Homo sapiens: one gene and its partner. The protein of the gene in region 1 purifies or fractionates together with the protein of each later gene. This does not show direct contact. Each region holds a gene or a part of one and is shown in the gene's direction. Other genes may lie near its edges.

Region 1 (3,820 bases):
ATTGGAACCGAGGAAGTATGTCTGCAGAGTTGGCGATTGGGGCAGGATTCCATGGCTGATACCATGCCAGTCACACTGCAGCTAGCATTCTCTGCTTTCCATTGCCTCCTGTTGCCCATCAGCCTGGTGGTCCATCCGTCATTCTGGCCAAAAGTGGCCAGCTCCATTCACCAGAACATAGTTTTTCTTCTCATTCAACCAACTGATGATCTTGAAGATCTCGATATGCATGAGCTCTCATTATTGGCTCCCTTTCCTTGACCCTCCCTGGTGACATTTCTTTCCTTTCCACTTGACCCCAACAGACATCTCAGCCAAGCCCTGGTGGTCAGTCTTCATGCAGCAGCCAACAGTCCCCCATCAGCAACTATTCCAACAGTGGGCTCGAGCTTCCTCTGACCGATGGAGGTAGTATAGGAGACCTCAGTGCCATCGATGAAACCCCAATCATGGACTCAACCATTTCCACTGCAACCACAGCCCTTGCTTTGCAAGCCAGGAGAAACCCGGCAGGGACCAAATGGATGGAGCACGTAAAACTAGAAAGGCTAAAACAAGTGAATGGAATGTTTCCGCGACTGAACCCCATTCTACCCCCTAAAGCCCCTGCGGTCTCTCCTCTCATAGGAAATGGTGAGTTCTACATCAGACCATGCATCTGCTCAGGGTTTTTTTTTCTGTTCTTTTAAATGCAGGCCCTCAGTTTTATGTTTGCTAGTTTCTCCACCAGTCCTAAAATGACGCTGTAACCATCCGTTAATGTTTAGCCCATTCAAGTTGCCTTTTGGGATTGTCCATATTTTAAAAACAGCTAGGAACAGGATAATATTGAGAAAAAAATGTGACTGTGCATGACTCATATTCTGATGGTGAAATCATAACTGTTAGATTAGGGTAAGGGAATGCCAGCAGTGGAGGCATCTGTGGTTGGAACTCTGTCTCTGGTTTCCAAAATTTAAAACCACGAGGTTAGCAGCCACTTTTATTTATATTTACCCAGTTCAAGGAAAGTCAGAAATCCCTCCCCACTGTCAGTCCCCAGGTCAGTTTGCACTTCTGAGATTACACTTCTGAGAGCACCTAAGGGGTGAAGCTCTTGCCTGCACCAACACAGGTGTTACCTGTTGGTAGGATGTGGCATGAACAGGACGCCCTGAGCGTGAATGTGAAACTCGTGGAGTACCTTTGCCTGGGGACTTGCCTGGAACTCAAGCGTTGTGTACCATCACAAGATTCTTTTTGTCCTTGCACAGCGCTTGGGGAGGGGCTTCAGTGAATCGAGGGAGTTGTTATTGTTTTGTTTAAGCCAGGCATCAGCAAACTACAGCCTGCGGCCATCTCCAGCCGCCCCTGTTTTTGTAAAGGAAGCTTCATGGACACCCCGCCACGCTTGCTTGCTCACTGCTCTCTGTGGCCGTGTTGGGGCTACACTGCAGAGCTGAGTAGTTGTGAGGCAGGCAATGTGGCCTGGGACACCAGAAATAGTTCCTAGCTGGCCCTTTACAGAAAAGGGTTGCTCATGCCTGGTGTAAGTCATGCTCGAAGGGAATTCATCTCCGCATGGTCTCTCCCTTTCTCTGTCTCCAGGCACACAGTCCAACAACACCTGCAGCTTGGGTGGGCCCATGACGCTTCTCCCGGGCAGAAGCGACCTCTCTGGGGTGGACGTCACTATGCTGAACATGCTCAACAGAAGGGACAGCAGCGCCAGCACCATCAGCTCGGCCTACCTGAGCAGCCGCCGCTCCTCAGGGATCTCGCCCTGCTTCTCCAGCCGCCGCTCCAGCGAGGCGTCACAGGCCGAGGGCCGGCCGCAGAACGTGAGCGTGGCCGACTCCTACGACCCCATCTCCACCGACGCCTCGCGCCGCTCCAGCGAAGCCAGCCAGAGCGACGGCCTGCCCAGCCTGCTCAGCCTCACGCCCGCCCAGCAGTACCGCCTCAAGGCCAAGTACGCGGCTGCCACAGGAGGGCCGCCGCCGACGCCCCTGCCCAACATGGAGAGGATGAGCCTGAAGACGCGCCTGGCGCTGCTCGGGGATGCCCTCGAGCCTGGCGTGGCCCTGCCTCCAGTTCATGCCCCGAGGAGGTGCAGCGACGGGGGAGCCCACGGCTACGGGCGGCGCCACCTGCAGCCGCACGATGCGCCGGGCCACGGCGTGAGGAGGGCCAGCGACCCGGTGCGGACAGGCTCCGAGGGCCTGGCCCTGCCTCGTGTGCCGCGCTTCAGCAGCCTCAGCAGCTGCAACCCCCCGGCGATGGCCACGTCCGCGGAGAAGCGCAGTCTCGTGCTTCAGAATTACACGCGGCCCGAGGGCGGCCAGTCCCGAAACTTCCACTCGTCCCCCTGTCCTCCCAGCATCACCGAGAACGTCACCCTGGAGTCCCTGACCATGGACGCTGATGCCAACCTGAACGATGAGGATTTCCTGCCGGACGACGTGGTGCAGTATTTAAATTCCCAGAACCAAGCAGGGTACGAGCAGCACTTCCCCAGCGCCCTCCCGGACGACAGCAAAGTGCCCCACGGGCCCGGTGACTTTGACGCGCCCGGGCTGCCAGACAGCCACGCTGGCCAGCAGTTCCATGCCCTCGAGCAGCCCTGCCCCGAGGGCAGCAAAACCGACCTGCCCATTCAGTGGAACGAAGTCAGCTCCGGAAGCGCCGACCTGTCCTCCTCCAAGCTCAAGTGTGGGCCGCGGCCCGCTGTGCCGCAGACTCGCGCCTTTGGGTTCTGCAACGGCATGGTCGTCCACCCGCAGAACCCCTTGAGGAGCGGGCCTGCTGGGGGCTATCAGACCCTCGGGGAGAACAGCAACCCCTACGGTGGCCCAGAGCACTTGATGCTCCACAACAGCCCCGGAAGTGGCACCAGTGGAAACGCCTTCCATGAACAGCCCTGTAAGGCCCCGCAGTATGGGAACTGTCTCAACAGGCAGCCAGTGGCCCCTGGTGCACTCGACGGTGCCTGTGGTGCCGGGATTCAAGCCTCAAAGCTGAAGAGCACCCCCATGCAAGGGAGCGGGGGCCAGCTGAATTTCGGCCTGCCGGTAGCGCCAAATGAGTCAGCTGGCAGCATGGTGAATGGCATGCAGAACCAGGACCCAGTGGGACAGGGGTACCTGGCTCACCAGCTCCTCGGCGACAGCATGCAGCACCCGGGGGCAGGCCGCCCCGGTCAGCAGATGCTTGGGCAGATTAGTGCTACCTCACACATCAACATCTACCAAGGGCCAGAGAGCTGCCTGCCAGGGGCTCACGGCATGGGCAGCCAGCCGTCAAGCTTGGCAGTTGTCAGGGGCTACCAGCCATGTGCCAGCTTTGGGGGCAGCAGGCGCCAGGCTATGCCGAGGGACAGCCTTGCTCTGCAGTCAGGACAGCTCAGTGACACAAGTCAGACCTGCAGGGTGAATGGTATCAAGATGGAGATGAAAGGGCAGCCCCATCCGCTGTGCTCTAATCTGCAGAATTACTCTGGTCAGTTCTATGACCAAACCGTGGGCTTCAGTCAGCAAGACACGAAAGCTGGTTCATTCTCTATTTCAGACGCCAGCTGCCTGCTACAGGGGACCAGCGCCAAAAACTCTGAGTTACTTTCCCCAGGTGCTAATCAGGTGACAAGCACAGTGGACAGCCTCGACAGCCATGACCTGGAAGGGGTACAGATTGACTTCGATGCCATCATAGACGATGGGGACCACTCCAGCCTGATGTCGGGGGCCCTGAGCCCAAGTATCATTCAGAACCTTTCCCATAGCTCCTCCCGCCTCACCACGCCTCGGGCGTCCCTCCCATTCCCAGCGCTGTCCATGAGCACCAC
Region 2 (3,820 bases), on another chromosome or scaffold:
TACTTTTAATGACAAAGTAAAAGTAAAATAAAACTGTCTTATGCATGCCAGCTATTATTATATTATCATTTACCATGTCTTGTGTAATATTAATAACTTAATATTCTACTACTTAATATTTCAAAAACTTAGAAACACTGACATTTCTACCCATCCTATACAATATTATTAGCATTTGGATTTTGGTACATAGTAGAGATCTAAGTTTTGGATGCCAACCCATGTTGGTCACTTCAGGGAATAGTTGTACATTTTTATTGTCAATTTTTATGTGTAAAGTACAAAATTAAATCTTTTATTAGGTCTGATATAAATGAAGTCTTTGACCCAAGTGAATGTTTACTTTTTTCAGTGCTGAATTCATAACTCTCAATGATTGCCTTCAGTTGGCATACCTGCCTTCAAAAAGGAATCACATGTTGTTGCTCTATCCTCGAGAGATTTTAATCCTTGACCTTGAGGTGAATCAGACGGTGGGTGTGATTGCAATAGAACGCACAGGAGTTCCATTTTTACAGGTATCTACAATTCATAAATTATATTCCCCAAAATTATTAAGAATGTTATATTAAAAGAAGGCCATAATCTTGCATAAGTCTTGTCTTCAGTTCTCCACTTTCTCTTTTCAATTTATCAAAAGACTAGCAACACTATTTTAGATTGTTTTTTTTGTCTGCACTTTTGATTGGTTTGATTTACCCTAGAAATTGTGACTGATCCTGAGATATTTATTGAACTATTTAAGTCACATGGGTAAAGACAAATTATTTTAGGATTATAAATGGATATTTTAAATGTACATTTAGTTTTAAAGTTTGGGATTTGTCTATTTTTTTTTCTTTTGCCCATATTATCTAAATATGAGTTTGAGTTTCACAGTATATACTTTATTAATCTATTGTGTTTTAAAAAATAAATATATCATCTATTTAAAGGTAATACCCTGCTTTCAGCGTGATGGTTTATTTTGTCTACATGAAAATGGTTGTATAACTTTACGTGTTCGAAGATCTTATAATAACATTTTTACCACTTCAAATGAGGAACCAGGTGAGTTTCTGTCTCACAATAATGTTATATTTTTCTTCAAAATTATTTTATAAAGCTTGATGTGGCAAATACCAGCCAAGGTATATAGTTAATGATACTCCTTGCTTTGAGGAAGTTTAAAATATGGTTATAATAAGAGGCATAAAAAGTATAAGCCCAAGATTAATCTCTTGATGTTAAAACAGTGCACCTCCTGTATACATCAAAGAGAGTAAAATTTTGTGTTTCTTGATCATATCCATGAGCCAAGTAGATATTATTTTTTGGAATTTTTTTTTTTTTTCAGTACAAGTCCAACCTTGTGTGCCTTTATTATTATACCCCCTTGACTTGTTGGCTGTAAGAACTTCCATTGTAAAGTGACAGAGGTTATTAAGTCTCAGTTGTCAAGTCAGTCTTATCTTGGAGAATGGAAATAATGTTTTTGTGAAATTATATACTGTGTAAAGATCAAAGTGATTTTCACATCTTTTGGAAAGTACAGTTATTTTCAGGCTTATAGACTACTACAAATTATGATGGAAATTTATTCATTAATTATATATCACTGTTGATCCTTTTTCAAAGTATCGTCTTTATTTTAAAATATTGAAAAAAGATATCTTGATTATAGTTGTTATTTTGGAAATTAAACTTAGTACAGTCATTAAGTAAATTATATTTGGAAAAAATTTAGTAGTAATTGTAAAAAGTGAAGCCATGCTTGACATTGCATTCATGAAGGAGTGATGCCCAAATTTAGTTGAGGTTTTATTTAAATTGAAACAAACAGTAGTGGTATCGATATGGCTGCTTTCTGATATTTAAAACAATTTTATGTGAAGATCCAGATCCAGTTCAGGAGCTTACCTATGATTTACGAAGCCAGTGTGATGCAATCAGGGTGACAAAAACCGTCCGTCCCTTCAGTATGGTGTGCTGTCCTGTCAATGAGAATGCAGCCGCCCTCGTAGTGAGTGATGGCAGGGTCATGATATGGGAACTCAAGTCTGCAGTTTGTAATCGAAATTCACGGAACAGGTAAATGAATCAACAGGATCATGGTTTTGTTTTTTGTTTCCTGTTTCCTTTTATAAAAAATTTCCATAATCATAAAAATAGGAGGGCTGGTTTTCTATAAAAATATTTTTAAGGTAATAATTAAGGCTTTAGATTATTAGGGAATTATGTAAATCTGCTAGAGCTATTTCACCTATGGGTAAGATGAATGAATAATATAAAAATAGATAGAATGCCATAATCTGGACTTAATACTTTGAATTCCTAATACGTAATGCAGATTTTAAGTATGTAAAACCTTCTAATTATTATGTCTTTGCAGTAGTTCTGGTGTGTCACCTTTATATTCACCAGTGTCTTTCTGTGGAATTCCTGTAGGAGTGCTACAGAATAAACTCCCAGACCTTTCCTTAGATAACATGATTGGTAAGCTTTTTTCCCCTCTAACTCCATGTTAAGTATTCTTTCTGAAGGGCAAAATTAATAGAATCACTCACTTGTAATTATTTTAAAGTCAAAAAAGTTAATACTTGAGAAAACTAGAACATGGAATCATTCTTTCCTAAATAAATCAGAGGGGTTTAAAATACTTAGGTAGAAAAGTGCCTGAAGTAGCACGGGTTTGCATTATAGTTGTTAGAAATAGAAAACGTTCATTCGTGAGAGACTGATGTAAATGAAAGCAATGACATTAGGCATCTGGATTTTGGACCTAGAGCCGATGCTGAGCTATGCCATGCCAACTCAGGGCCTTGCTGTTTGCTGGTTCCTCAGCTTGGAATGAAGTACATGCTTCCTTTCTGTCTGCTACTCCTAATTCAAAATTCAACTCAGATGTTGTTTTCTTTAATCTCCCAAGTCTAATTTAAATGCTCTTCTTTTGTTTTTCCTAACAGTTATCAGCATATTTTAATTGTGGGTTTTTTTCTTCTGTTTCATCTCATCAATTGTAAGCATCACAAGGGTGGTACAGTGTTTGATTCTATTTTGTCTTTCCCAGCACTCAGCACAGTACCTTGTGCATGCCTGTTTTGTAGTAAATATTTACTGAAGGAATAAAGTAACTGAGCAGTATTAGAAAAGATTATTTTAACTTTTTGACATGAATTATTTTTATGTTGGGGATTCTTTCAAAAAATCATTTTTGGAGATAAAGTGTTCAAAGTTATTTAATTATGAGGCCAGTATGTATTAAAGGAAGAATGAGAGTTTGTGATTTCAAATTTTATGCTACTTGAAATTATAAGGCTTTGTAAATATGCCAAGCAATTTGGACATCTAATTTTTTTACAGTTGTGGCTATGGTTTATAAAGGATTTTCTGTTTTATTATTTATTCTACCATAATATAATTGAAAACGATATTATTTAGGAGGGTTTTTTTGTTGTTGTTGAAACGCTAAATAAGTGATGCACTAGAAAGAGCATTGGCCAGGCGCAGTGACTCACGCCTGTAATCCCAACACTTTTGGAGGCCGAGGCGGGAGGATCACTTGAGGTCAGGAGTTCGAGACCAGCCTGGCCAACATAGTGAAACCCTGTCTCTACTAAAAATATAAGAATTAGCCAGGTGCAGTGGCATGTGCTTGTGGTCCCAGCTACTTAGGGGGCTGAGGCAGGAGAATCGCTTGAACCTGGGAGGCGGTGGAGGTTGCAGTGAGCCGAGATTGCACCACTGCACTCCAACCTGGGCAACAGAGCGAGACTCGATCTCAAAAACAAAAAAAAAGCATTACATTATTAATTACATTAATTAGATCACATTTATTGGG

What was found.
Region 2: the proteins of GLI3 (region 1) and WDR11 purify together in Homo sapiens (co-immunoprecipitation; one study listed by IntAct). This does not show direct contact.

Annotation. Positions count from the first base shown.
Region 1 is NC_000007.14:41,964,409-41,968,228, reverse strand, and holds part of GLI3 (transcriptional activator GLI3), read left to right. Parts: intron 1-305; coding exon 306-633; intron 634-1,587; coding exon 1,588-3,820. UniProt on the Homo sapiens protein: Has a dual function as a transcriptional activator and a repressor of the sonic hedgehog (Shh) pathway, and plays a role in limb development.
Region 2 is NC_000010.11:120,864,695-120,868,514, forward strand, and holds part of WDR11 (WD repeat-containing protein 11), read left to right. Parts: intron 1-352; coding exon 353-518; intron 519-935; coding exon 936-1,050; intron 1,051-1,874; coding exon 1,875-2,070; intron 2,071-2,371; coding exon 2,372-2,475; intron 2,476-3,820. UniProt on the Homo sapiens protein: Involved in the Hedgehog (Hh) signaling pathway, is essential for normal ciliogenesis.